4 linked regions of the Homo sapiens genome follow. The protein of the gene in region 3 interacts with the protein of the main gene of each other region in a pairwise test. Each region holds a gene or a part of one and is shown on either strand. Other genes may lie near its edges.

What was found.
Region 1: the proteins of LZTS1 (region 3) and LMO1 interact in binary tests that used the Homo sapiens proteins (3 or more experiments, as listed by UniProt).
Region 2: the proteins of LZTS1 (region 3) and LMO2 interact in binary tests that used the Homo sapiens proteins (3 or more experiments, as listed by UniProt).
Region 4: the proteins of LZTS1 (region 3) and GARIN1B interact in binary tests that used the Homo sapiens proteins (3 or more experiments, as listed by UniProt).

Annotation. Positions count from the first base shown.
Region 1 is NC_000011.10:8,225,500-8,233,138, reverse strand, and holds part of LMO1 (rhombotin-1), read left to right. Parts: exon of another isoform or gene 1-267; intron 268-1,032; exon of another isoform or gene 1,033-1,160; intron 1,161-2,054; exon of another isoform or gene 2,055-2,170; intron 2,171-2,634; coding exon 2,635-2,848; intron 2,849-2,860; exon of another isoform or gene 2,861-3,578; coding exon of another isoform or gene 3,579-3,715; intron 3,716-6,038; coding exon 6,039-6,164; exon of another isoform or gene 6,165-6,285; intron 6,286-7,639. UniProt on the Homo sapiens protein: May be involved in gene regulation within neural lineage cells potentially by direct DNA binding or by binding to other transcription factors.
Region 2 is NC_000011.10:33,881,635-33,889,273, reverse strand, and holds part of LMO2 (rhombotin-2), read left to right. Parts: intron 1-6,997; exon of another isoform or gene 6,998-7,090; intron 7,091-7,334; exon of another isoform or gene 7,335-7,386; 5' UTR 7,387-7,450; exon of another isoform or gene 7,451-7,455; intron 7,456-7,639. UniProt on the Homo sapiens protein: Acts with TAL1/SCL to regulate red blood cell development. Also acts with LDB1 to maintain erythroid precursors in an immature state.
Region 3 is NC_000008.11:20,245,576-20,252,513, forward strand, and holds the end of LZTS1 (leucine zipper putative tumor suppressor 1), read right to left. Parts: intron 4,789-6,938; coding exon 4,147-4,788; 3' UTR 590-4,146; downstream 1-589. UniProt on the Homo sapiens protein: Involved in the regulation of cell growth. May stabilize the active CDC2-cyclin B1 complex and thereby contribute to the regulation of the cell cycle and the prevention of uncontrolled cell proliferation. May act as a tumor suppressor.
Region 4 is NC_000007.14:128,725,212-128,732,703, forward strand, and holds the end of GARIN1B (Golgi-associated RAB2 interactor protein 1B), read left to right. Parts: intron 1-1,004; exon of another isoform or gene 1,005-1,610; intron 1,611-1,616; coding exon of another isoform or gene 1,617-1,622; coding exon 1,623-1,660; intron 1,661-4,690; coding exon 4,691-4,858; intron 4,859-5,888; coding exon 5,889-5,902; 3' UTR 5,903-6,532; downstream 6,533-7,492. UniProt on the Homo sapiens protein: RAB2B effector protein required for accurate acrosome formation and normal male fertility. In complex with RAB2A/RAB2B, seems to suppress excessive vesicle trafficking during acrosome formation.

The sequences.
Region 1 (7,639 bases), on a different chromosome or scaffold from region 3:
GAATCAGTTCAGCACCCCAGAAGAGGGAGGGGTGTCCAGGTCTTAAGGTAACCTGCCTGTGCAGAGGCCAGCCTGGGCACGGGCAGTGGGGAGGGGGACCTGCGGCGGCTGGCAGCTTCACCCCTCATGGCTTCCACAGGGTCCTCTAGGTGCCAGATGCCTCCAGTGAAGAGATTGTCGACCAGTGCTGGAGTTTACAACCCTGCGGGAGCCAGGACAAACATGCTGGGGTCTGAGCTCGGAAGACCAGCCTGTCCAAGAGCCAGGGTAGATGGAAGAGAGAGTGGGACAGCTGCTTCACGTGCTGGGGCCTCTCACTGTCTCCCTTCATTTTGGGCTATAATTTAGTGGGCTAGGGTCTCCCCTGAGTACGGAGGTTCCAGCCATTCACCCATGTTCTGGTAATAGCCCAAATATAGAGCCCTGGGAGGGGCTCAGGACCACTGGGAAGGGAGCCAGGCCTGCTGCAAGCCTGGCTGAGCAAAAGGAACGTGAGCCTTGTAGGGGCTGTAGCGGGGGCCTGGCCCAAGATTTTCCCAGTCGGTGTTTGAGTGCGTACCTCTGCTGGCTGCATGCTCCCTGCACAGGGCCTAAGGACAAGGTCATGCCCTTGGAGCCCTACCCTGGTCCAGGTCCCACTCTGGGAGGCCCCTCATTTCCCCATCCAGCTATTTTAACTCCTCTCCCATTTCCCCACACCTCCCTGTAGGCCAGGACTTGGAAGGAGCCTCACAAGACCCCTTCAGTTCTCAGGGGTATCTGCTCCCCAGCTGCCCTCCTTGGGCTCTTTCAGAGCTCTGTGCCAGGCTGGGCCCTGCTAGAAGAGACACAGGCAGGCCCGAGGACAGAGTCATCCTGTGCCCCATCCCTCTCTCAGACCAATTAACCTTTAGAGCTGCATTAAGGAAATTAGGCAGCACACTCACCAGCTAACAGACAGGCCCTGCCGGGACTGCAGGGAGGAGAAGGAGGAGGGAGCCACTGGCCCTGCACACTGTAGCCTGTGGGTGGGCGCCAGCTCCCCAGACTCACCTGTCCAGGAGAAGTCTGAGGAGCCAGCTGGGCTGAGAGCGAGCACAGGAGAGGAGAAGGAGCCCTGGGGCCAGCTTGACGGTGGCTGACTCAAGCCCCTGTAACTGTCTGAGCCTCAATTTCCCCATCTGTAGTATGAGAACATTTAACTGGGAGAACTCTGAGGGCTCTTCTGACCTTACATCTGTGGATTCTGAGACCAAGGCCTCTTGTGGCTTGTTCTCCCCTAACGCCCAAGGAGGAGAGAAGCAAAAGGAAGGGAAGCAGCCCAACCATTCAGACTCTGGGCTGGGGGCAGTGAGGAGGGCTGGGAATGGGAGGGACACCAGGGGATGGGAGGAAGGCCAGAGCCCTGGAGAGAGCAGGGGTCCTTTGGAGAGGACGGGGCCAGTAGAAGGACAGACTCCAGGGGAGTGTTGGAAAGCCGGGGAGGTGGGGAGGGGTGGGCCCCTATCCAGCTGCGCCTTGGTCAGGAACGGAGCATGCACACGCTCCCTGTCTTCACAAGGGTTCTCAGGCAACTGCCACAGGCTCCCGCCCTGTCAAGTCACAGAGCAGGGCTTCTGAGGTCCTCTGCACTTCCCTCCCAGCCTCACGGGTCCACATGGATGTCCAGGCTACTGGACGACATATGTCCCCATCTCCTCCTCAACGGTCCCTGTGGTTCCAGGAGAAGGGACTAGGAACCCGTGCCTCTGTCACTTCATGCCCACACCTGCACGTCGTGCCTGTGTGTGAGGGGTGTGTGTGAGCGCACATGCTCGCCTGCCGCGACGGGAGGCTCTGCCCTGTGGTGAACATCACATTGGGCCCTTTGTACTTGGTGCCTGTGTGTATGTTGGGAAGCTGGTATGGGCCCTGGGAGGGACTGATGGCTGAGAGATCCTAATCCTGGTAGAATGAGGAAGGATCCAGAGGCTCAGAGCCTGCCCTCCCCCAGGCCAGGGCAGGTGAGGTGTGACACCGCCTGAAGCATTCCCAAGGGGAGCCCCAGCCAGGCCCTGCCAGCTGCCTCCGCTTACCTGCCAGGAGCCCCAGAGCCTCTGCTCCCTCCTGGGAGTGTCCCAGGGGCGTCTCACTTCCTTCTTGATGCCATCACAGCTCTACATGGATAGACCAAGAGGCTGTAGCACTTCAGCTGGAGAAAGACGAGTTGGCACAAAGATCTGGGGGTTCTAGAGGACCTCGTGGGCCTGAGGAGACTACATTTCTTAGGCTTATTGCTGAAAGAGCCAATGTGATGGTGGCTTCACAAGACGAGCTTCAGGCTTACTCCGGATGAGACCGCACAGGGGATAGAGGCCATGGTAGGGAGGAACAACTCAGGGAGGCCAGGCCTGGGGTCTGTGTGTGCCTTGGAGCAGAGCAGCCTCTGGAGGGACCTTCACAGGGCCAGGGAAACAGGCTGTGCCATGTAGCCCAAAGGGCAGGACCCGGAGCCAGGGGAGGAGGTTATTGGGGAGAAAGCGAGGGCTCCTGGGAGCCCCAAACCTAGAGGGGGCAGCAGAGAGAAGCAGTGAGCTCCCCATTCTTGGGGGATATTCCTTGAGGCCCAGAGCTACGGGGCCCATCCTGCGTTGCTGTCTGTCTGTCCGTCTGCAGGCGTGCCGATGCTCTCCGTCCAGCCCAAAGGGAAGCAGAAGGGCTGTGCGGGCTGTAACCGCAAGATCAAGGACCGCTATCTGCTGAAGGCATTGGACAAGTACTGGCACGAAGACTGCCTCAAGTGTGCCTGCTGTGACTGCCGCCTGGGCGAGGTGGGCTCCACCCTCTACACCAAGGCCAACCTCATCCTGTGCCGACGCGACTACCTGAGGTGGGCTGCCAAACCCTGGCCTCCCAAGCCCTTGTCCTGCTCAGAAAGCTCCCCATCCTCAGCCCCAGCGTGACTGTGCCCCCGGCCCTAGACCCAGTACCCTGTGTGTCCTCTCATTCTTGACTGTCCTGCCCCTGCCCTGCTTGCCCCAGATACCTGAGAAGTCACCTGAGGGGAAGGCCCAGGTCGTTATGCCCTTGGACTCGGTACCCAGCACAAGTCCAGGGCAGGCATTTGTAACCTGGGGCCCCTAAGTTAAGCTTTCCGAGGGCCCCAGTCTGGCTCCGCCCCCCTGCCTTGGCCAGGTGCTTCTGACCCACCTGATCTGGAATCTGGGAGGGGATACCTCAGAGGGGCTTTGAGAACAGGTGTGGAAGCTTTGACTTCCCCAGGACCCTCCTCCCTAATGCAGTCTCTTTCCATCTCCCAGTGTCCAACTTTCCTTTCTAGATGGTCCTTGGGAGCAGGCATCCATTTGCCCAGGGAAACTGGCAGGCAGCCATATCCTAGGAGCAGGGCCACTGATGCTGGAGCTTCAAGACCTGGGTTGGAACTAGCTGTGAGCCTTTGGCTCCTAATCTTCTCCCAGCCTCAGTTTACTTCCCCGTGAAGGGTGAAAGAATGATGCTTCCCTGCCTTGCATTCCTCTGAGCTCTAACTCACCCTCCCTACAATTTGGATCCTATTCCCTGGGGCCACCTCCCCCAATTAACCCTCCCTGAGGCCATTTATGACATCAGCAAGGCTGGAAGGAGGCCACAAAGCAGGGCCTTGGCTGAGACCCAGCACCTGCATTTGGCTCTGTCGCAGGCTGCTGGATGGTTGCCGGGCTTGTGGGGAAGGAGGGCTCATCGCATTAATTAACAGGTCGGGGCAAGGGCTTCATGGGGCTCCCTCTGCCCAGGTCTGGGCATGTTGCAAGGGGGAGGTTATCAGTGGAAGCTCCCTCAATTCCCCAAAGATCCTTTGACTGACCTGCCTGCCCCTTTTAACACCTGCATTTAAAAGTGATGCAGTAAAACAGAAGCTGTGACTTAGTGCTCCTTGCCAGGGCTGGAGGGGAGAGGCTGAGACCAGAAGCAGGGGTTAAGGAAGAATGTTCAGGCTAGGCGCGGTGGCTTATGCCTGTAACTCCAGCACTTTGGGAGGCCGAGGCAGGCACGTCACTCCAGCTCAGGAGTTCGAGACCAACCCTGGGCAACATGGTGAAACCCCGTTTCTAAAAAAAAAAAAAATTAGCCAGGTGTAGTGGCTGCATGCCTGTAGTCCCAACTACTCAGGAGGCTGAAGTGGAAGGATTGCTTGAGCCCAGATGTTTGAGGCTGCAGTGAGCTGTGATTGCGCCACTGTACTCCAGCTTGGGTGCCAGAGCAAGACCCTGTCTCAAAAAAGAAAAGAATGTTCCTGGGGATTCACCCCTTGAGGACCTAGAAGGGGCCTCCATGTCTGGAGGTTTAGGGCATCACCTGGGGGCTGACTCTACCAGGTTAGGACGATGTGGCAGACCATCTGATGGGTTCACAGGACTTGGAGAGAGAGGCCCACAGTGTAGGATGGGCTTATCAGGAAAAAGCACCCTCAAGCATATAGGGCCCTGCCAGCTACTAGGGATGGAAGGTAATTTTTTTTTTTTTTTTTGCTCTGGCAGAGGCAAGGAGTGACTGTAGGACCAGCTAGACCAGTGGGCTGGGATGCGAGCGTGGCTTCCTTGAGCTGCTCAGGCCTGGAGAATGGCTGTCCAGAGCCTGCGCCCTCTGCAGCAACTGTTCCTGGGCCGATGGCAAGAAAAGCCCCTCTTGGCAGGCAGATGCTGTGGCCTAGCCTTTGTCTGCCTTAATCTGAGCCACCAGGCAGCTCAAGCTGATGAATAATGGAGCCAAGCTCATCTGCAGGCGCCTGAGTTTGAGCTGGACAAATCGGGGATTAAAGGGGCCCCCCACCCTCTTCTCAGCCTCCTTGCCTCACTTGGGGCTTGCTCTGTCTGTGTGCAGGAAAGAAGCAAGGAGGAGCCGGGATGGCTCAGACCATTGGGACATCCAGCCAAGGGCTGGCCTGCATGGGGAGGGAGTAAACTCCCTGTCCCTAGAGCTTTACAGCCAGCAGCTAAGAGGAGGGGTGCCTGCCTCAAAGAGGCATTTGTGCCAGATGTCCTTGGCGCTTCCTTTGGGCATCAGTTCTGTTTTACAGCATCTTTGAATAGGATCATCCATCCCTATTTTACAGAAGGATAAACTGAGGTTCAGAGAAAGAAAAAAAGGGACTTAGGCAAGTAACACAGTGAGTTTGTCATGGAAAAAAGATTTAATAAAACACTTTAATTTTGGCAAGGCACAGTGGCTCACACCTGTAGTCCCAGCACTTTGGGAGGCCAAGGCAGGAGGATCAGTTGAGGCCAGGAGTTCGAGAGCAGCCTGGCCAATATAGTGAGACCCCATCTCTATTTTTAAAAATCAAATAATAAACACTGTAATGTTAAAGGTGGGAAAAGCATGTCATGCAGTGGTTTAGAGCACGCCTTCTGGACCAAGGCCCTGTGACTGTCCAAGTTGTTTCTCTGTGACTCATATTTTAAATCTTTAAAATGGGGAATAATAATAGTACCACCTCCTAGGTTTGTTGTGAGGATTAAGCGTTTATCTTTGTAAAGCTCTTAGATTAGTGGCTGACACATAGTGAACACTACCTAGGTGGTTGCTTAGTGAGTTGTGACTGAGAATTTACAACAGGTTTCACAACTACCCCATAAAGGGTGTGTTTCAGGCTTTGTTTTACAGATGAGGTAAATGAGGCTCAGAGAGACTCACTGACTTGCCTGAGGGCACACAACCCAAGATTCAGTCTGCCCCTGAAATTCAGGCTTGCTCAGGGCCCAGCCTAGGATTCTCTTGGTGGCTCCAGGGCTTGAGGACCCTTGTGGGAGCCTGGGAGGGGGCCTTGGGATGGGCAGTGGCAGCCAACTCCTGACCCCCTACACACCCTCCCTGGAAGGGGATGTGCTGATTTATTGGCAGCCTGATCTCTGGGCAGAATCTAGATGCTGCCCTCAGTGCTCTTATCCTATTGCCTGAGCCCACCTGCTGAGCCCACAAGTTGGAGTATGGGAAGGACCCTGGATGGAGGCAACTCCTTTCCCCCTGCCCACCCAGCTTCCCAGAATGCTGCTGAGTCCTCTGCGCCCTTCCCTCGGCAGGCTCTTTGGCACCACAGGGAACTGTGCTGCTTGCAGCAAGCTGATCCCAGCCTTCGAGATGGTGATGCGGGCCCGGGACAACGTGTATCACCTCGACTGCTTCGCCTGCCAGCTCTGCAACCAGAGGTCAGTGCTGGACTGGCCGACCCAACACACTCCCCAGACGCCAGCCTGAGGCCTGCTGGGATGGGCCAGGAGCACGGCGGAGGCGTGCACGCAAATGCGGGTTGCGTGTGTGTATGTGGTGGTGCGTGCAGGTTATGAGCGTGCATGTGCTTTATGTGTTTTATGTGTGTGTAAGCTCGGTAGCCAAATGTGTGCACTTTAATATTGGGTGTGCACATCTGTGTGGCACATTTCTGTGTGAATATAATGAAGGCGTGCATGAGTTTACTGTGTATGCATAGTTGAGTGTGCATGTGCATGCATGTGTATTTGGAAATGTACAAGTGGGCACATGTGCATGATGGAATTAATATGCATTTGTACATGTGTTTTTAAATGTCTGGGGGTGTATGTGTATGTGCAACGTGCATGCATGATGAGGTGAGTATGCATGTGTGTATACATATTTTATTTTTTGAGATAGTCTCACTCTGTTGCCCAGGCTGGGGTGCAGTGGTGTGATCTCACAATCTTGGCTCACGGCAACCTCTGCCTCCCGGGTTCAAGTGATTCTCCTGCCTCAACCTCCCAAGTAGCTGGGACTACAGGCGTGTGCCACCACGCCTGGCTAATTTTTATTTTTATTTTTATTTTTATATTTTTAGTAGAGACGGGGTTTCACCATGTTGGCCAGGCTGGTCTTGAACTCCTGATCTCAGGTTATCTGCCCACCTCAGCCTCCCAGATTGCTGGGATTACAGGTGTGAGCCACCGCGCCCAGCCTGTATACGTGTTTGAAACGTGCATGTGCATGGGATAACGTATCCTCCCACCCCCGTACCCAGTGTATAGTATGTGCATGTGTGTGCATGTATGTTCCAGTGAGAAGGGGTTCCCAAATCTGGAGGGCAAAGTCCCCTCAGGGAGTGGCCACTCTCTCCTCACCCAGCCCTTGTGATTCTGGTTCCAGCCCAGCCTATTTTCTGGTCTCTTGGCCCCAACTCTGTGCCCTAGCCCTGTGGGAGTCCCTGGGGACCTAAGGAGCCAGAGCCCTTCAGCCCTGGCTGGGGCCTAGCACCAGAAGGCAGGCGCTCTTCTCAGGAGCCCCCAGGTCAGGTAGGAACGCATACAAGTGCTCCCTGAAGTGAGGTTCAGAGGGACCTACAGGGAACGCTGGTCTGGCTGGGGGCTCTGGCCGGACCTGCTGTTAGGAGGGCTCAGTGAACTTACAGCGCCACCTGGTGGTTGAACTGGGATCTGCTGGAACTAGGCCAGCGATCTTGGGGTCTCACTAAAGGCTTCACCCACCCTGGGGACATCTTTAGGGAAAGGACCGGAATCTTCCCTTACTTGGGGAGGACTAGGAGACCAATGAAGGGCCTTCCTTCGGTAGGAGAGGAGATAGTGGAACGGGGTTACCTCCTAGAAGGATGCTCTAGGTAACTTATCAATTTTGTTTAGAGGAAGAATGCCCTGTACTGAGCCATCCTCTTAAA
Region 2 (7,639 bases), on a different chromosome or scaffold from region 3:
GCTCCTCAAGGGTAGGGACGGTGTCTTGTTTATTTTTAAATTCTTGGTGCCCAGTACAGTGCCTGGTACACAGGAGATGCTCAAATGGCTACCCCTAGCCTCTGAGGTCCCACTGCACTCAAAGAAGAGCAGAGCTCCAAATGACCTTGTCATCTTTCCCCTATTACCCAAACCTGTTCAATTTCCCCATTTCTGTTTATTAAAGATCCATTTTCTCAGTTACAAAGATCCAAGACTCCTCGAGGGTATTCTACCCTAACGGAAATAGGACAGGCTTTGTAGTCAGACTTGAACCCTGGCTTTGGCGACTACTAGCTGTCCTGCCTGGAGAAGTTGCGTACCCTTCCTGAGCCTCAGTTTTCCCTTTCATTGAATCAGGATGATAATACACACTTCATTCATCCACTCAGCAAGTGTTTACTGGGCGCCTCATACACAGCAGGAACTGTTCTAGGCACTGCGGATACGTAGACGTCAACAAAACAAACATTGCTCTTGCCTGAAAGGGGCTTACAAACTTGAGAGGGGGAGACAGACACCAATCAAATAAGCAAGTACACATATAGTATGCCAGATGGCAATATGTGCTAGGGAGAAAAATAACACAGAGTGAGGGAAAATGGAATGCGCTGGCCCGGGTTATTAGTGTCTTACTCAGGTGATGAAGGAAGACCTTTCTAATAAGAAGAACTCACATCTGGGGAAGAATGTTCCCGGAAGAAGGAGAAGAGCAAAGGCCCTAAAGCAAGAGTTTGAAGAATGACAAGGGGTCCTGTGTGGATGAAGCAGAGGGAGGGAAGGAGGAAGGGAGTGTAAGAGAAGGGGACACAGAGATGGCTAGAGCCAGATATGCAGGGCCTTATAGGACTTTGGCTTTTTACTCTGGGCAAGAAGGAAACCTTGGGAGAGCTTCAAGCAGAGGAGCGAAATGATCTGATGCAGGTTATGAAAGGATCCCCCTGGCAGTGGCACAGAGTATGGCCCCTGACCTGTGTGGATGGGGCAGAAGCATAAGGCTGGCCATTTGCATCCCACAAATGACCTCAGTGTGAGGGATGAGCGAGATCATATACGAATGCGCTTGCGTGAGTATGCATAGAGCAAGTGCTCAAGCCATGGCAGCTTCTATCAATGGCCCTGCAGCTGCCTGGCTATAGCTCCCTGGTCTCCTGCAGACAAGTCTTGGCCAGTCACGTGAGTGCCTCTGTCATTGCCCACTCAGTCATTCCCCCTGCCCCCACCTCCTTTCTTCAACCCTTCACTGGTGGTTAAGCTCCTAGCACAGCAGCCTCACCTCCAGCCTCTCCCCACCCCAACCCAACCCAAATGCAACTCCACTCACATCCTTCCCCTGTTCAAGAGTCTTCCATGGACTAGTGGCTCATTAAATCCACATTCTTGGCTAGGTGCAGTGGCTCACACCTGTAATCCCATCACTTTGGGAGGCCAAGGCGGGCAGATGGCTTGAGCCCAGGAGTTTGAGATCAGCCTGAGCAACATGGCAAAACCCCATCTCTACAAAAAGCAAACAAACAAACAAACAAAAAACAAAACAAAAGAACAAAACAAAAATTAGCCAAGCGTGGTGGCACACACAGCTGCTTGGGAGGTTGAGGTGGGAGGATCACCTGAACTCAGAAGGTCAAGGCTGCAGTGAACCACAGTATCACCACTGCACTCCAGCCTGAGCAACAGAGCAAGACCCTGTCTCAAAAAAAAAAAAAAAAAAAAAATCCACATTCCTGGAGACTTGCAGCTAAGGCCTTCCACAATAAGATGCTGCATTTACGTTTCCCACCCATAATCAACTGCTATCCCAAACATATTGAATATCTGTGGAGAAGTATGGGTGGGTGCAATATGTCACTCCTAGCAGAATCACTGAGGAAACTGACCACACTCATGATGGAAAATTGACGGTAATGAGTCCTTCCCTCAGGTTCCCCAACCCCACAATATGCCCTAACCATGGTGGACATGTATTCCTGTCTGTCACTGGCTCACTTCTCCCACCAGGCTACCGCAAACTCCACAATGATGTATATTCTCTTAAAGCTACAAAATGGCTTGTGGTTTCCAAATCAGTTTTCCTTACTGCTCTTATCTCCCTTGATACTTGCCCCTATGGGCCCCTCATCCATAATAAAATGCCCTCATTTTACACTTACTAGTTCTGACAAGAGTCCCAGGTTCCAAGTCATGGATTCCCATGTGGGATTGCTCCTCTGATCCTTCATTCCTATATCTTTTTTCAATCTATCCACAATTCACAAGGCATCGGTGTCAGACCAATGGCAAATAATAAGTGGGACCTGCTGGCTATGGATGGAAGAGCGAAGTCCCTGACAACATGTTTCTACCAGCCTGGAAATGAGGCTCTCCCATCCCCTAACACATCTACCAGTTGTGATGGATTTAAAGGCTGGCTAATGTTAAGCTTGTTCCACAGGGGATAGAATATTGGCCCCTGGACTGACACCTACCACCATGTGGATCTTGGAGCAAGACAAAGGAGCCCCCCAACATTCGTGTTCTGAAATAACAATGCCTGAGGCTGTCTATTCCCCACCACGGATGCCAAAGCACAGACAGCCACTCACAGCTGTGGGATACAGATGCCCCTGTCATTATAAAAGGCCAGCCCTAAATGCTATTACAGAGTCTAAAAACTGAAAATGTTATTGTGAAACCTTTAGGTTTTTTATAGCTGGCTATGCCTGATATAGCTGGTGGCCTGGGACACAGTTTCCCTACTCAGCGCTGGGACACCTCGGCAATACTGCACCCACAGTGTCATCCCTATCTGTTTGGAATGTACAATTCTTCTACAACACCATGGGCCAGGAATATCACATCATCCTGAGAAGCCATCAGGACAAACAAAAAGGAATGTGGTCCTGTATGTTTAGTCCCACCTCCCCTACAAACTACTTTTATCATAGAAATGATGCCCAATTGTCAGCCCAGCGCATGTGGTGTCCTCCAGCACCCCTTCTAAATGTGCCCTCAAGCACCCCTTCTGCTTTGTGCATCTTTGTGACACCCTTCCAGATGTCAGCCTATATCTCCATGACCCAAATCTGACTTAAGAGTTGTGGCCGGGCATGGTGGCTCATGCCTGTAATCCCAGCACTTTGGGAGGCCAAGGCAGGTGGATCACCTGAAGTCAGGAGTTTGAGACGAGCCTGGCCAACATGGTGAAACCCCGTCTCTACTAAAAATACAAAAAAATTAGCCAAGCTTGGTGGTGGGCACCTGCAATCCCAGCTACTTGGGAGGCTGAGGCAGGAGAATTGCTTGAACCTGGGAGGCAGAGGCTGCAATGAGCCAAGATTGTGCCATTGCACTCCAGCCTAGGTGACAAGAGCGAAACTCTGGCTCAAAAAAAAAAAAGGTGTACCAGCCCAGGGAGACAATGGCCACATTGCAGGTGATGACCACAGCCCAGCCAACCACTGCATCCTGGAGGCTGCCCACCAGTTACCCACATCATCTACCAAGGGACCCCCTTGCTGGAGCACAAACAGCTTCCCTTGGGGGATCCCTCAATCAGCATTTGTCACATACCTGAAAAGGGTGGCCACCACACAGGCCACCAAAGTTATAACTCTCTCCTCTCACTTCCTCCCCATTGGGCACAATAAACCTCATTGCCATTGTGGCTGGAACTTCCCTTCCTGGGCCTCCCAAAGCAATTCTACTGCCTAAGGCTATCTCCGGGCTAACTTGTATGTACACAGAGATAAAGCCACATCCCAGTGGCTGGACCTCATGCAATGTTGGGCCTCCTATCTGCCCCCATGAGCAGGCCACTCCCTTATTTGCACCACAAAACCACCAACACCAAACACTTCTGGTCTAGGCTCCTAGGTCTTGCCCTGTCCTATGTTGGCTCAGATGTTATCCAGTCTGGTCCCCGGCTCATGAGTCCAGATCATACATCTATCCAAATGTATAAATACATGCCTATGCTTGTATCTTCCTAGGCCCACACAGCACAACTAGTGTCATGGCCCACCCCAGATATTAAAGGAACACAAGAGATTGGAAGCCCCAGAGGGAACCTGCTTCACCTGTTCCACTCCTAGATAACTTCTTCCTGACGTCCCAAATACCTAAACTCACCTGCACACTGCTAAGTCTGACAACCCCCTTCACATTTTTCTGACTGTTCTGCAATTTAACCCTGCTGGTCACAGTCCCCAGTCAGAGGTGATGGGCAGTCTTCCTACCCATTGTCCTGGGTATAAGCATGACTTGGGGCCAGAAGAGTGGGACTAAGGTCTTACAATATGATCACACCAGGAAAACTAGCAGATACTTCAGAGAAAGATCCGAGGTCCTATCAGCCCACGTAACACAAAAAACAGCAGCACTGGAAGCTTTCACTGAAGGGCAAAAACCCCTAACTGCCAGGGTGGCAGATAAGAGACTAGCTCCAGATGATATGCCAGCTTCCCAGAAGGAGTATATGCTCTCAGAGGGCATAGTGTATCCTGCTGGACGTGGATAAATATTGCAAGGCAAAGTAATCCAAATAGCCCAATGGATGTACCACCAAACAGAAACCAAATTCTACATGTGGTACTCTGAACTCCCTAGGACTTGGATGTCCCCTGTAGCCTGGGGTGACCTTGTTTTAGGAGCCCTCCTGCCCACAAGTAGACTTACATACTGCACTGGCTATGTAAAATTGGTACAGCCTATATACAAGTATATTAGCTCTTTGGATGGTGAACCAAATGTTAGGGAGTGAATTTTGAAGAAATTGAGTTGAGTGCAAAAAGTTGCTCCCAGCAAAATGTCATTTGTCCAAATAGTTAACACCCACTGGGGCAGAAACCATCAGGGCACCCCACCCCTCACCACCCACTCAGCCCCACTCACCTCTGCAGCACCTAGTAATCATATGCAAGAAAACTCACCCTTACTCTTTTTGATTGACCACCCCCAGCCTGACCCCCAATGGAGCAGATCACTCAAAATTAATCTTCCCCCACTACCTCCTCTCGGCATTATTCAACAGGTGGGCCCCTGTCCTATATCTACGTAGGTCCCCAGCACCAGGCTCTTTCTCCTCCCCAGAAGTCAGGGAGTCCTCTTCTCAGTGGGGCCCTCAACCAGTGGCTTCCCTCGCTGCCTATGCCTGCATAAGTAATACACCTTTGAATTGCCTGTGATCACCGGGTCAGGTGTGGTGCGTTTTGGCATCCAAGGCTTTTAAATGGGAGAGAACAGCAGATCTGGTTCCTTTCACTGGAATATTGTTATGGTCCAATTCTGCAACCAGCTGACTTCATTACTACCTGTGAACTGCACCTCCAGCTCCTCCAACTGACCCCATACCCAGACCCTTACTTGGGCTGTTTCCTACCAGACACACCTGCTCTGTTAAGAAAACCATTATTGAAATCACCGGCTGTTAATTCCTACTCAGTCCTTAGTAGCCCTGTGAGCTGGAGCAAGTTCTGTAGGCTTTCTGTGACTCAGTTTCATCACCCATAAAATTATGATTACAATACTTACTTCATTAGGGTGTTGCAAGGGCCTAAAAAACACTCTATGTATAGCTCAAAGTACAAGCCTGACAACAAAGGAAGTTTCCAGATAATCGCTCATCAAGGGGCAACTCGATTTTCTGCTTCCTCCAGAAAGCCTTCCATGCTGATGTCCATCCACTCTGATCTCTCCCTAATCCAATCTGATTGCAGTTTTGATCAGCACCTCACTGTTGACCATGGATTTCTTCTCCATTACAAATGTGTTCATTTTGACTTCCAAGTAAGAGATAAAGGTCTTGGAAAGAAGTGATTGCATTTTACCTGGCTCTCCTACTGACTTTCTGTGTCATCTTCCTCTTAATTTTGGGGAGACTGAGTTTCTTTCTCTGGGATGGCAAATACATGGCCTATGTGCCAACACTTTCCCATCCTGAAACCTCAGGACACACACCAGTGTTCTCATCTTCTCTCCAGAACCTGGGTCCAGACTCACAATTCTTCTTAACACAATACTTTGGACAGTGTCTACTAACTTATCTAATAAATATGTTTTGAGTACTTCGTAGGTACCATCCCCCTTGGTCAGTTTCTAGAAGTTAAAACGTTGGACATCTTGTATCTGCACTTATGGAACTCATCCCTTAGTGGAGAAGAAAGACAATATGCAAATACACAAATAAGAAAATATCAAGTAGTGACAAATATAATGATGAAAATTAAATAACGGTGTGTTAGTGCCTGGGGAGGAGGCTATTTTTTAGATCAGGTATCCAGGGAAAGGCCTTCTGAGGTTTCTCCCTTGATCTGGGAGATTGGGTGTGGGCCTAAGAATATGTATTCCTAACATGCAAACGTAGGAAATTTGGGAAACACTGGCATAGTGAATGAGGTGAGGGCATAGTCAGAAGACCTAGGTCTAAATTCCGTCTCCTACATTTATGCAGCTGTATGACCCTGGGAAAGTTATTGAAATTTCTCTCTCACTTTCCTCCTCTGTAAAATTGGAATAATATTACTGATCTCAGGAGGTTTCTTATCAGGATTGAATAAGATCAAGTATTTAAAATGCCTGGCACATAATAAGTGCTCAATAAAAGGTAGGCATTGTTTGCCACAATTAGGTCTATCTATTTATAACCGTAATCTTTTGTTTGAATCACTCAAGAGACAAATCCAATAAATGCCGCTAGGTAATACGGTGTCTGCGTGTTGGCTTTTGCCTCATGAAGCTCTTCCTCTTGAAAAATAAATTTTCAAAAGACATTCCTGTGAGCAAGAATGCCCGAGTCTAAGGAACAAGGGTCATCCAGTTCTCTAGTTTAGGCATGTTTGAGATTTGAAAGGGCTTTGGCCTAATTTCCTCTCCTATCAAATGGGCACCAGGCTACCTGCCCTTTTTCACTCATGGGGGATTTCTGAGACTCAGAGGGATAAGAGATTTGCAAAGCGTGAGACACAAACAGTTGCAGATACAGACAGAACACTTGCTTTCTCAGACCGGCAGGTGCATACAATGGCAAGGCCACCTGATACACCAGTCCTGTTCATTTGGAAAAGGGACAACTCCTTCACATTCACAAGCTGGGCTGGTAAGTGAAGAATAAGAAGAAAAAAAAAAGAAGTCGGCAGGAAGCAGCCTCTTCAACCAGCAAAGAAACCGTTAGAATCCATCCCTGCGCCCTGATGCCAAAGTTCCGCCTGCCCCACCCGTCACGCTATCAAGGACACCCGCCTGCTATCAGAAAGCCCTGGGGGTCTTTTTCCCTAGTTTATCAAGGACCTGTGGAAACATTTCTCTAACTGAAGATAAGAATTTTTTTTCTCTCTCTTTCTCCTTTCTACTTCTAGCTGTCTAAACCAGAGGGTTCCTCTCATTTTCTTTCAGTAACAACTGCTCTGAAAAGAAGATATTTTTCAACCTGAACTTGCAGTAGCTAGTGGAGAGGCAGGTAAGGTGGGTTTCATTAATTCATTTGTTCATTCATTCATTTCTTCCATTATTGTATGCTTCCTGCATGCCAGAAACTGGGCTAAGAAGGCTCTTGGATTTAATCCTGGGCAGAATGAGCTTGAGGTCTTTGGGGAAGCCAGACTGCACTTAACAATTACAAAATGCGGAATTGTAAATTGTGATCTGA
Region 3 (6,938 bases):
CCTATGCTGCCTTGCATTATCAATTTCCTCGTAACATGTCCCTTCTGTCTCCCACCACCTGAGCAGCAGCCCTCTGGGCCTAGGCTGTGGGCCCGGGATGGTAGGGAAGGTTGTCAAGGGGGCACCAGGTAGGCTGGAACCAAGAAGGCTGGACAGATGGCCATGATGGTGACTGCACCTGCCCCACCAGGGGGCCCTGGGGCAGTGGCAATTGTAGCCATGCTGGTCTTTTGCCAGGAGGCCATATGCAGTAGACCCAGGAGTTGGCTGGTGAGGTGAGCAGACGGTAGGGCATGCAGTTTGGGTGGGGAGGGGCTCTCTTTTGGAGAGGACGCTCTGACTCTACATGGACACCTGTCCCTGGGTCCCTTTTCCTCTCATTTCACAGATAAGGTCCCGGGGTAGGCGATGGGGGCAGGGGCCAGCTGAAGCCTGTCTGACCCCGGGGGCCCCTTTCCCACTGCCCTGTGCTGCCTTCCTCACCCCCTTCGCTGGTGGAAGGGACGTCATCTTTCCTGTTCCAAGGGGAGAAGTCCCAGGGAGCTGCCACACCGCAGCGAGGGGAGAGGAGGGCAGATACACGTGGCTCTAGAGGGCGTGAGAAATGGCATTCTTTATTCATAAATAAAAACATAAAATTGCCACAAATAGTTTACATGGCCAAAAAGTGACGTCAAAAATAAAATGAAGCTGTCAAAAGCAAACCAAACCAAACAAGAAACCACAAAGAGAAAAATAACTATGTACATCTTCCAGATGCTGGTCCGTCCCAGCCTGCCTCTGCTGGGGGCTCCAGCTCTGCCTGCAGGCGCAGCACAAAGGCCACCTTGCACAAGAGGTGGGTGAGCAGCCCCGCTGGCCCAGGGGTGCAGCCTCTGTCATGGCAGCACCCACCGCATGATGGCTTGAGGTCTGCAGGGAAATCCCTCTCCCCAAGCTGCTGCTCCTCCAGCCAGGCCTGGCTTAGTTTCGGGCAACTGTCTCACCTAAGAGATGGCCCAGGCTGGGGCCAGGCACAGGAGGCTCACTGAGTGCCTCTCTGGGGAAGAGATGCCCCCATATCCCAGTCCCATGTGAGCTCAGTGCTATAGGGGCTGTGTGTGCCTGGCAGGAGTTCACTGGGAGAGCTAGGAGGGAACCCCGTGACAGTCCAGTCGTTCCCAGGTCCAGGGGCAGAGTCCGATCCTTGGTGAGGTGATGCGGAGTGCTGCTCTCTCCTGCAGGCGTCCTTTGGGGACAGAGCAGGTTGGTCCATCCGAGTGGGTCAGTGGGTCGGCCAGCAGGCGTGCCCAGAGGGAAGGGCAGGAAGCCCACCCTGTCTGGGGCCTGGGGCCAGGCTCTGTGCTTGGAGGCTTCTGCTGTCCAGAGCCTCTTTCCAGAGAGGCAGAATCTGGCATGGTCCAAGAATAGTGAGGGCGCTTTTGGACAGGGCAGGAAAGAACACCCACAGGAAGGTGAGGTTGCAAGGTCGCAGGATACTTGCATTCTAGTGCCACGGTGGGCCACTCTGGGGCGGGGGCTGGTGGCAGCCCAGGGAAGACATCTGCCACCTTGGACGTAGGACAAGGCCTGGGGGGGACACATCTGGGCCGGCCTGGGACAGGGCCATGGAGATATGGAGAAGGCTGCACTCCTCTGTGTATGGAAGGTACCGGGACACCATGGCGGAGCACAGCCTCCGCCTCAGGGCCTTCCCCTGGGTGTGGCAGCCACTTCTTCTCAGGCAACGTCTGAGGCAGAGCACTGGACTCTGACTGCTCTTTCCTGGAGTTGGGGGGGGGTCTCCAGCCTGGGGAGGGGGAGCCAGCCCTTTCCTCTGTCTCCGTGGGGCAGTCTCACTGGGAGGAAAAACTCAAACAAGGCACGGCCTGGTGGAAATGAAGGAACTGAGGGCTGAGGCGCAAGGAATGGGGCATCTTTGACTTGGGTCTGGACTGTGCCCAATGGAGGGTACTGCCCTCAGGCAGGGAGGGACTTTTGGCTTGTAGATTCCAGGTTTAAGCCTAGCTTGGGACTAAGAGCAATGGTTTGAAATTCCAGAAAAGCTCCTCTGTCGTTTGAGGATGGCAGGATGGGCACCGTTTAACCTCAGGGACAGGAAGGTAGAGCCAGCCACAGAAAAGGTGACTCTGGCCTCAGCCCGCACTCAGGGAAGGGCTAGGACCCATGAGGGCGGGGGGCAAGGAGAGAAGCATCTCCCCACCCCTACCTCGGGGTCTCTAAGGGCCAGCGGTGAGCGAGGCAGAAATGGGGACTGGCCTTGGACTCGCAAGTTCCCAGACGCTCCCCTCCTCATCTCAGCAGGCAGCAGGCGCAGGCATGTGGGAAGGGATGCTGTCCTGAGAACAGCAGCTGTGGCTACAGTCAAAAATAGAACATGGAACAGCCTGCTAGGTCTGGCTTGCTTCTGAAAAGACAAGAAAGCAAAAAAGAAAAAGAAAGAAGAATAAAAGAAAAATCTGGCCAGGCACGGTGGCTCACATCTGCAATCTCAGCACTTTGGGAGGCCAAGGCAGGTGGATTGCTTGAGGCCACAAGTTTGAGACCAGCTTTGGCAACAAAACGAGACCCCGTCCCTACAAAAAAAATGAAAAGTTAGCCAGGCACGGTGGCGCGCACCTGTAGTCCCAGCTAGTTGGAAGGCTGAGGCAGGAGGATTGCTTGAGCCCAGGAGTATGAGGCTGCAGTGAGCTATGATCATGCCACTGCACTCCAGCCTGGGGGACAGAGCAAGACCCTGTCTCATAAAATTAAAAATAAAATCCCTGAACCAAACAACAGAGAAACTCCACCTTTTATCTCTCTCTACCACCGCCTCCCGCTCCGCACATCTGCAGAGAAACCCTGGACTCCCTGGGGCACTGCCCAAGCTCCTGAGAAAGGGAGCTGCTCTCTGGATCCTTTAGTCTGGGACAAATGGGGGTCTTGAGGTGGAGGGAGGATGGCTGGTGGCCAGGCTATTCACACTGCTGTGTGTATGCCTCTTTTTCGTCCTGCTTGGGGCTCTGGCTTCCTGGCGCTCTGAGGAGCCGTCCTGACCTCTAGAAACCCAGAACTCAGCCCTGAAGGTGCTAAGGGGGAAAGGTTTGCCGCTAAACCTGGCTGTAGGCAGAGGAGGAAAATGCCCAGATCACATATATGCCATCTTAGTGATATGGGCTCTTCTGGATCAAGCAAAAGCTTGATTCTGGGGAGGGAAAAACATTCCAGAGTAGCCGCCGGCCAACGTGAAGCAGGTAGGGACTCCCAGCCTCTGGCCCCAGCTGGACAGATGGGGAGGCTCCCTGAGGGTGCCTGGAAAGCCACACCCTCTGGTTCACGGTGGTTTCAACCCTCCCTTCCCAGCACCCAGCCCAGGGCCTCAGGGTCTATGGCTTAAAGAAGAGTGGTCACCGAGGTCAAAGGTCACTGGCTGTCCAGAGGCTGCTCAGCTCCCATTTGCAAGAACCAGTAAACAGGGGCTGGGCCCCAGGGGCTGGCCATCACCCGCCACTGGCTCTCAACCCTTGGATTCTCCCTCTGCCCTCCTCTGGCTGTGGCAGGGTCTCCACACTGCTGGGCTGCCTGTCTCTCCCCTCCTTCCTGTGGCTTGCCGGGGCTGGGACAGCCCTGAGGTTTCAAAGCCAGCTTCCCCGCGGCTCATTCCACCCCTACACCTCTGCGGCCAGAGGAAAATAGCTCAGGTTCTGATGGGGCTGGTTCCAAGGCTTCTGGTCATATATGGCTTCTTTCTATTTCCAAGGCATTCCAATGTGTCCAGGAGGAAAAAGAGGTTGGGATGAGAAGCAGAGGGGAGCCGCTGTACTTGCTGTGGCCACCTTCCCTGGAGGAGGGGGAGAGGATATCTATTTCGAACAAAGGCCAAAGTTTAGGGAGCCCTTAACCAAAGCAGACAGACCCCTGGACCCATCTCCTGGGAAAGCCAGAGGAGTCAGGGCCTGACGTCTGGTGGGCTGCAGGGCTGGTGAGCACTGGGACATCAGAGAGGGAAGGAAAGGCCATCCTGCCCTCCCCTCGGGGGTCCTGGGTCTGTGTCCCAGGGAGTGGCGTCTCTCAGAGGGGTCTGAATTGCTGAGCAGGGGGGATGCACGGGAGAGCCCTGCCTCCCAGTGCCAGGTCCCCAGACTCGCCTTCCCAGGCAGCCCCTCAGATCTCAGTGGCTATGATGTCCTCGTAGGGGATGTCAGCCCCTTCCAGGTCAACCTCCAAGGGCTCCCCGGCGCTGTCCCCACGTGCCAGCTGCTGCAGGGCCTTCTCCAGGCGCTGGTTCCGCTGGTACATGGCCACGTAGCTCTGCTGCAGCTGTTTCTGGTACTGAATCACCTTCTCCTTCTCCTCCTTCCACACGAGCCGCTCATGCTGGAAGCCCGAGGACATCTGGTCATGGCCTTGCCGCTCCTCCCGCAGCTCGGCCCGCAGCCGCTCCAGCTCCCGCTGCAGGGCAGGGACGTCCTCGGGGAAGGTGGGCGGCCCCATGTCGCGGGCCAGGGCGGCCTGGGCCCGCAGCTCCTGCAGCTCCTGCTCCAGCAGGTTCACCTTCTCCCGCAGCAGCTCCGCCTCGTTCTTCTTGCGCTGCAGCTCATTCTCACAGACCTCCAGCTCCAGGCCCTTGGTGCGCAGGGCGCCCTCCAGGTCCTGGGTCCTCAGCTCCAGGCCCTCCAGCTTGCCCCGCGTGTCCTTCAGCTGTGCCTTGAGACCCAGGATCTCGCTAGCCTTGGCGTTCACCTCCGTCTGGGACTCCTTCAGCTGCTGCTTCAGGAGGGAGATCTCGCCTGACTTCTGGCACACCTGCCGAGGGTGGGGTGGAGACAGAGTGCCAAGAGGTGAGTGTCCTTACCCAGGGAAGTGACAGCTCAGCTGCCTAAAATAACCAAGCCACTCCGGATGCGGTGGCCCGGTGTTAGGCATTCCAGCCTTTGTCCAATCTGAAAGTAAGCTGAACATTGCTGTGACCTTTTCCCCAGGTTATCGAGCTAGGCTATATAGTAAAATGATAAAATAATAATAATCATGTATAATGACACATAGTATATTATTATTGTTATTATTTGAGAAGTCTCGCTTTGTCACCTAGGCTGGGGTGTAGTGGCGTGATCTTGGCTCACTGCAACCTCCGCCTCCCCTCTGATTCTCCTGCCTCAGCCTCCCAAGTAGCTGGGATTACAGACACCTGCCACCATGCCTGGCTGATTTTTGTATTTTTAGTAGAGACGGGGTTTCCTCATGTTGGCCAGGCTGATCTCGAATTCCTGACCTCAAGTGCTCTGCCTGCCTCTGCCTCCCAAAGTGCTGGGATTGCAGGCGTGAGCCACCACGCCTAGCCACACAGAAGTATATTATTATAAACATACTTTCACTAATAATTTGTAGTGTTATTAAGTGCCAAGCCATACATTTGCTCATCTATTCCTTACAACCCGATGAAGTAGGTACTATTAGTAGTCCTCAATTTACATCAATGAAACTGAGGCACAGAGAGGTTATGATAGCAAATAGCTGGTGAAGTGACCAGCCTGAGGGCTAATATATATATATATATATATATATATATATATATATATATATATATATATAAAATATAAAGTATAAGAGTAGAGATTTGATCCCAACAGTTTAATCACTATACCCCATTGCCACCATGGCTAATGTATTTACAATCACCTGGATCATAAGTGGTCAAGCTGAGGTTCAAAGCCAGGCCCATGCCTCAGCCATGACTGTGTCACTCCCTTCGTGGCATGAATACAGGGTTGGCCTTGGAATGAAATTCTTGGTCCCAAGCACGCATCCTGGGTAGGGTCGGATTTTCTCCAGGACTGTGCAGTGTTTCACTGAGGGCAAGGGGAAATTTCTACTGTGAAAGGAAATGTGAAGGTGGCTTCCAGGCTAGTTCCAAGAATCCATTCTGTAGAGCCACATGCTCTGGACTTCATTCACTCTTAAGATTCAGCCAGACTGGCCTTGGTCTCCCATGACCCCAGATGGCCAAGATCCAGAGACACATGGGTCTAACCTGTGGCTTCGGTTTTCATCATTGCTCTTGGCCAAATTTTGATGGGGGATAGGGGTGGAAATAGAGAAGAAGAGCAAGAGGAGAAGACAATGATTCCTCGTTTGACAGATGTGGATTGGGCTCTGCATCCAAGCCAGCATGATACTAGTCACTGGGTACAGCAGTGAATTTGTGAGGTAGTCTTTACTCCAGTAGACAGGAGAGAGGAGGGCTGGGTGCATGCAGGGGTGAGGTCAGAGGATGTGGGCATAAACGTCGATGACGGAAATCAGGCTGACACCAAAACCAATACCATTGGTGTTAAATGGGGGTGATACAGCTGCCAGCAGTGGGCAAGTTAAACCACTGGTTGTTGACTTGCACATAGCCAGGGGTTTGCGTGTAGACTGAGAGTTGGACTCTGAACTGGGGGTGAGGCAGGCACGTGGACAGACCAAGCTGGGTGCGAGCATGTAAAGAGCCTCAACGATGGGCTTGAACTCCATGAGTCATCCAGACCACCAGGCTGGTGAGAAAAGCTGCTTTCCCACTAATAGATGCAGAGGTTATGGGGTTCTCCAGCACGGTCAGGTACAGATGCCTCATTTCCACGTGTGACCGGGTGAGTGAGTGTGTGTGAGTGTGTAAGTGTGTGAGTGGGGGACTCTTTACTTCCTCTCCTAGGTTTCCATCTCAGCTCACCAAATAGAAGTTCCACTTACACTTCAGCAAGGAGTGGCCACTTCCATCACTGAAACCTGCCACCAATAGGGTCCCTCTTACTAGTGGGTGCAGTCCCTCCCTCCAAAGCAACAAATGCATTCTGTGCTCTCTTGGGCCCCTGGCCCCGCCTGAACTCAGGCACGGCTTGTTCTTCTTCTGAGCCTCCTGGGAGCTGATGGAAGGGAGGTCAGCCCACAGCCTGGCTGGGCCTTGGTCATCTGGC
Region 4 (7,492 bases), on a different chromosome or scaffold from region 3:
ATACAGAGCTCTGTAATTAAGGAACTTCTCGATGAGATGTCATATTGCTGAGCTAGAGGGCACTGGACTCTAATAGAGCAAGGTATTTTGAAACTGCTTTTTGGCTATCTCAAATTATCAAATCACTTTCCTTCCTTCCTTCCTTCCTTCCTTCCTTCCTTCCTTCCTTTTTCTTTCTTTTTTGAGACAGTCTCACTCTGTTGCCCAGGCTGGAGTGCAGTGGCATCTCAGCTCACTGCAACCTCTGCCTCTCGGGTTCAAGCGATTCTAATGCCTTAGCCTCCAGTGTAGCTGGGGTTATAGGCACTCACTACCATGCCTGGCTAATTTTTGTATTTTTATTAGAGATGGGGTTTCACCATGTTGGCCAGGCTGGTCTCAAACTCCTGGCCTTATGTGATCCATTCACCTCAGCCTCCCAAAGTGCTGGTATTATAGGAGGGAGCCACTGTGTCTGCTCAAATCACTGATTTTTAAATTACTATTTAAAGAACCGTTTCTGTTTATACCTCATTGGCCACACTCAGTCACGTGACCTCACTCAGCTGCAAGGGAGGCTGGGAAATGCATTCCCCATTTTGCATAGACATGTACACAACACAAAATTAGACACTGTGCTCCCCAGGGAGAAGGCAAAAAGGGTCACTGGGGGCCTACTGGCACTCTCTGGCACAGACAGCTTTTAATATTTCTAGAAGTTGAGAGGAGGCTAAGGTCTGAAGGAGAAAATAGGTAATAGACAGCTAAAGAAAGGGTGAAGAAGGGCCAGGCAGGTTAAGGGAATGGGCAGGTGCAAGGCTGAGGCTTCCACAAAGGAAGAAGCTTGGTGGAAGGCCAGTGGGGAAAAGCGGGTAGTGGTGGAAGAGAATAAATAGAAGAGGGCAAGGAGTGAGCCAGGCGGGGCCTGGGAAGCCATGCGAAGATATTTAGACTTCCAGTATCATGGGAGCCTTAGCAGCATTTTAAACAGGGAAGTGACGTGATCCAATTTACATTTTGAAAAGGTCATGCTAGCTGTTGCCTGACAGTTAATTTGAAGGGAAGGAGAGATGTGGAAAAACGAGCTAGGGAGCTATGGCAACCTACTCTGGGCAGATCGGAAGGATGTAAGAAATGAGGGGAGGAAGGGATTAGTTTTTGCTTCATTGCTATCTTGATAATTGCTTTGTACAGACATTTAGCTCTTTCTTGTTAGTTTCCCAGAATGAAGCCCCTGAGTGATGATTTTTCTCTCATTTGGGCTGGTTCTAGTCTGGTTGCAATTATTATCAGTTTTTGCACATTGGCAACAACATGCAACTTAACAGCAAATAAAATAAATAGCTGAGATGCAGAACTGAACAGATGGAGTCACCCCCTCCTCCTCAGCAAAATCAGCAGCATGGGCTCTGCTCCCCACCTCCCACCCCATTCCACCTCCCCCTTCCCGATTTTTTTTTTCTGGAACTTTAATATGCGTCACACCCATCCAATATAGCCACAGCTGGCCTTTTTCATATTTATATCTGTCTCTAAAGCTTTGCATCAGGAACTTTGGAACAAGATCTGAAATACAAATTTAATGTTCTTTTCCTTTACTTTCAACTTTCATTTCCTTGATCCTGAAATGGCTCGAGTTTCAGGAGCAGCAGAAAGGTGGAGACCAACAAGAACAGCTCAGGTAAGGGAGGGCACAGGGTACCATGCCTCAAAGAGCTTTCTACTCTGGATATAAGAATAAGATCCCCTCCAGCCCCCATCCTGGTTGTCCTGGTGCTGTCAGTATTGCCATTGTCCTTCCATGCCTTAGTTTGAATTCCTTTAGGCTCTCTGGCCACCACAATCAAGTTGGCACCAAGTCCTAACCAATTTCTTTCTTTGCAATGTATCTTGTATTCTTTACTTCATTTCTACACCCACAGACCCTACCCCAGCCCAGCCCTTCTCATCTCAAGCCTGTAGCACTCTTCCATAAGTTCATTTATCCATTTATTCATTCAAAACCACGCACTGAGTGCCAGTTACTGTGATGGGCTCTAGGGCCACCATGTAGAAAGACACCATGTTCCCGCAAGAAGTTTATAATTTGGTGGTGTCAGATGGGAAAATCCCCGAATTACAAAATGTCTCCTTCCAGGCAACATTCAAAGCTTGTGCCTAGGGTGCCAAAGGAGCACAAAGAAGGGGGTCCCTCATTCCTGCCAGGAAGCTTGCCTGGGAGGCATGGTTTCTGAACTGAGTCATAGACAATGAGTGCAGGTGAGCTGGCTGAAACAGGTAACGCAGGGCATTCTAGGAAGAAGAGACAGAGTCTGCAAGAGGGAGCATGACACATTCTGGAAAAAGCAGCCAGTTCCCTATTTCCAGGTTCTAGTTCACCCCAAATCCACTCAATTCGGCATGCATGGCCCTGCACAATCTTCCCCCATCTCACCCATCTCACCTGCTCACTCACTCTTCCTCTAATAGCAGCCCTCTGCCTAATCATCTTCTCTAGCCCAAATCTTTTGCTCCAGCAAACCTTAGCCATCCCATGCCTCCTTCATCCCCCATCCACTCCCTTCCCCCGATGCTTCACTCTAAATCCTCCCTATCCTTCTAAATCCTACCCTTCACACAACACCTTCCTGCCAGGCTAATCCTTCCTCGGTCATAACCTCTCTTTCATTATTCCCTAGTTGTTTTATAGGTTTGAGGGATATTTCTTCAGTGAATACTAAATTGTTTTCAGGCTTCTCAATTATCCACAGCATGAAGCAGAGGCCTGAGAACACAATGGGAGGCAATTAATACCCATATACCATGGCACTAATAAATTATTCCTTCACGTTGGCTCAGTAGGCAGCCAAAATATCATAAGATATTTATAAATTTAGAGAAGGCTGTAGGTCCCAGGGGAACTCTGCTAACTTTCGTCTAAATCAGGGATTACAAATGCATAGGACTGCAGGTGGTATAAATGGGTAAAGGGGGCAGGGCGCGGTGGCTCACGCCTGTAATCCCAGCACTTTGGGAGGCCGAGGTGGATGGATCACGAGGTTAGGAGTTCGAGACCAGCCTAGCCAACATGGTGAAACCCCATCTCTACTAAAAATACAAAAATTGGCTGGGCATGATGGTGCGTACCTGTAGTCCCAGCTACTCGGGAGGCTGAGACAGGAGAATCGCTTGAATCTGGGAAAGTGGAGGTTGCAGTGAGCCGAGATCACGCCACTGCACTCCAGCCTGGTGACAGAGCGAGACTCAGACTTAAAAAAAAAAAATGGATAAAGGGCTGGGTGACATGGATGTAAGAAAAGGTTAACTTTTCTCTAAATTCTGTTATAAGTAAAACAACTGCTGGCAGCTGACACTTGGTGTCAAAACTGAGAAGACAGCAGGGAGTGGTGGGGATAGTGGCAATGAGAAAGTGAAAGCTTCAATTAAGACTTCCATTCGTTGTTGCCATGCTGGAATCCAGGCCAAATATTCTGATTTTTCAAGAGAAGCCAAAAGATCTGGACATATGTGGCATACCACCTTCCCATAAAATATTCAAGCATAGTATTGGCTAACACTTAGTGGGCAAACAAAACATATCTGCAGACCACATTCAGCCTGGAGGCTGCCAGCTCACAGCCCCTGTTCTAAATGGTGAGCACAGCTGTGGCTGCCTCACATTTTGTCCAAGCCTAAGAATGTTTTCTCATGTTATGCGACTAATGACATGATGGTGACTCATTTCTCTGCATTTAAACATACATTCAAACACACATATGTATAAACATACACACTCAAAACATACCCCATGACATTAGGGTTGAAGAAAACAGATGTGAGGAATATTTCAAACATTTCTGGGACTTGAGAAAACAGCTAGAATTTTAGGGTCGCAGGGTATCTGGCATCATGGGACCTACCACGGCCAAGATGTTCCTAGGCTGAAATTGAATTGAAATTAACCATCCCAGGTGGCCTCCAGGCCCTCTTTTCTCATTCGGCGAGGGAGTGTAGTCTCTCAGTTTAAAAAGACTGTTATACCCCAGCCTCTGGAACTTTTGGATGAAAAAGAGACTTAAAATTGGAAAAACCAGAGGCCCAACAGCACCTGTGTGGCTGAATCTTTCCACTCACCACCAGCAGGTGGTATGGCCTATTATTGCAGTGCTTCCCAAACTTTAATGTCCAAACAGTCCCCCATAGATCTTGTTAAAAGGCAGATTCTAATTTCTTGGGTCTAGCGGGATTGAGACTGCGATTCTAACATGCTCCCAGGTAATGCCCAAGGTGCTGGGCTGTGGGCCATCCTTTGAAGAGCCAGGGCCAAGTGGACCAAGAACAGGCTCTAGCTTAAGGTCTTCTGGGTTCAAGGCCATTGCTAGTTCAGCTAGATGAGTCTCCTGGGGAAATCCACTCAGTTAACCCATCTGAATCATATTGGGTCTCTCCTTTTACTGGTGCTGTCTTGTTCACGTGACATAGTGGTAAGAACGTGGACTCTGGAGCCAGGCTGCCAGGCTTGGAATTCTGACTCTGCTTCTCCTTGTGTGACAGTTGGTAAGTTACTCACCCTCTCTGACCTCACAGAGGTGAGGATTAAAGGACCATGAATGCACGTAATTGTTTGGAATGGTGCCTGGCACATCGTAAGCACCCCCCCAAATGTCAGCTGTAACCTGTAAGGGCTCTGTGAACCAGCACACAAGCAAATGCATTTCTTTACTTGATCTAGGGAAAGATTCTTCCCGTGAAGACAGCATCCCTTGCACCTGTGACCTACGTTGGAGGGCTTCATTCACGTACGGAGAGTGGGAAAGAGAGAACCCCTCCGGCCTGCAGCCCCTCTCACTACTCAGCACTCTGGCAGCCTCCACCGGGCCACAGCTGGCCCCACCCATAGGTACAGCAATGGGAGGAATCCCCTGCCATTGTGGGGCAGCCCTGGCATTCAGCCTCAGGGCTGGGTCAGATCCTGGGGTCCTGAGGGTGATTCCAGAAAGTTGTGGGGTGTGGTCGAGGAATGCTGGCCACAGAGACCTCAGCCCTCTTTTCCCAACTGGGCTGAGCAAAACCATGATGTGTGGCACCTCCAGGGCCCCCAGAGTTCCCCCAGATGCTGTTGACGCTATAGCTGCTTTCTCTTGCTGTATGGGAGGTGTAAGGGATCTCCTCTGCAGACTCCCCATGTGGTCTTTCCTCTCTTTTCCTTTCCTGGAGCTCTTGAAGGGCCTTCTTACTGCTTGGGTTGGGATGCAGAGAGTGAAAAGGAAGTAGGTTAAGGGGGCTGGGGTGGGGTCAGACCTCCCTAAGGTCCCAGTCCTTCTGTCTTCATGCTCAAGGCCCATTCGTCCATCCACACATTCATTTAACAAACATTTGTGAAGTACTTCCTATGTGCCTCTGTTTGACCAGAGATAGATTTCCCTAAAAGGGAGGGGTGATTTCTGTTTTCTAAAGTAAAATGTCATGAATAAACCACCAACTCTTTTTTTTTTGAGACGGAGTCTCACTCTATCACCCAGGCTGGAGTGCAGTGGCATGATCTTGGCTCACTGCAACCTCCGCCTCCCAGGTTCAAGTGATCCTCCTGCCTCAGCCTCCTGAGTAGCTGGAATTACAGACATGCACCACCACGCCCAGCTAATTTTTGTATTTTTAGTAGACACAGGGTTTCACCATGTTGGCCAGTCTTGTCTCGAACTCTCGACCTCAGAACTCTCAACCTCAGGTGATCTGCCCACCTTGGCCTCCCACAAAGTGCTAGGATTACAGGTGTGAGCCACTGGGCCCGGCCACCACCAACCCTTATAAGATACCTATTATAGATAGTTGACAATTTTTTTAAATTAGCATAAGTATCTGTGTGCCCACAAAAGAGCTTTTTAGGTAATTTATATCCTATCAAACACTTTTCTCTCCTACACTCACAGGAAATTCTATTTGAGCCACCCTTCCGCACTGGGGAGAATCTATGCAAGCCTCGTCAACACCACTTTGCAGCATTCAGCTGCTGAGGGATTATCGGGATGGAGAGTAGGAGAAAACTGCAACCAAGGAAGAATAGAGTCATCTCACGGTGACAGCAGAGCCTTTCCAGCTGTACATAACCACGTCCTCGCCACTGCACCTCGGCATATGCCACCTCCATGCCACTGCCAGAGCTGGCCTAGCAAGATGTGCTCTCAGAATGGCCGGGCCCAAGAGATGAAGGAAAGGAGTGAAAGGGAAGTAGGACCAGAGAAGTGGAAGGAAGCAAAATGGAGGTGATGAGAAAGGTGGTGGGAGAAAGTCAGCAGATGAGAGACACAAAGAGAAGTGGTAATAGGAAACGGAAGAGACTTGGTAGACGAGATAAGGAGGACAAGAGAAGGGACACACCCCTGAGAGATGCTCACCAAGCTTCTATTTATCTAATTTAAAACTTGAAAGTAAAGCCATAAACAAAAAAAAGAAATGTTTTCTTCCCTGCTCAGACCATTCTGGACAAATGTGAACTGCCAGACACCTTCCATTTCCCTTTCTATCTGTTTTTCTTGCTAGTTCCTGTCTTCTGATTAAAGCTTCATTCCTTCTTTGTTGGCCTGTTCCCTAACTTGGACTTGCTAGCCCTGTTGTTCCTAATAGAGGTTTGGGTTTGAGCTGCAGAAAGGTTCTTATAGGAGGTAGTAAGACAAGGTGTGTAAGGTAGGGCGAATTTCTCTTTTGTGTTCAAATTCCCTAAGTTTGCTATTATCTCCGTGCCGCAAACACTGGCTCAACTTCTTTTTTGTATAACACTCCCTTGAAATGTCGACATACCTTGTTAGTGCTTTTTAAATTAGAGATTCCAGAGATAGGAGATATAGGCTCAACATACAGGTTAATCAGAGGTTTACCAATTATAGATGAAGGGAGTCATGAAGGAGTGTTTGTCAGATGGTCTATGGACTGGCCTCTTTGTTTAAAATGTGCAATAGTGTCAGGAGCAGTAGCTCGTGCCTGTAATCCCAACGCTTTGGGAGGCTGAGGCAGGTGAACCACTTGAGCCCAGAAGTTTGAGACCAGCCTGCGAAACATGGCGAAAACCCATCTCTGCCAAAAATACAAAAAAATTAGCCAGGAGTGGTGGTGTGTGCCTGTAGTCCCAGCTACCAGGCAGGCTGAGATGGGAGGATTGCTTGAGCCCAGGAGGTCGAGGCTGCAGTGAGCAATGAGTGTGCCACTGCACTTCAGCCTGGGTGACAGAGTGAGATCCTGTCTCAAAAAAAGAAAAATTTCACATTTAATGAGAAACAGACTATGAGTATTTCAGGAAAGCTGTCCATCCCCCAGCTGGGGAGGGTATTTTGATTTGACTTAAGATATCCTAGCAGCATCTTTTTCCTCACTTAACTAGTTTTCAGCCTGAAATTGTTAGAAGGCTAAAAAATAAGCTCCTGGATCACCATTACTCAAAGGCTGAGTTATGTCCTAATTCTTAGTGATTTCAGCATCCACATGGATGATCCTTCCCATACTTTGATCTCTGTTCCCTGAACTCCTGCCTTCCAGCAAT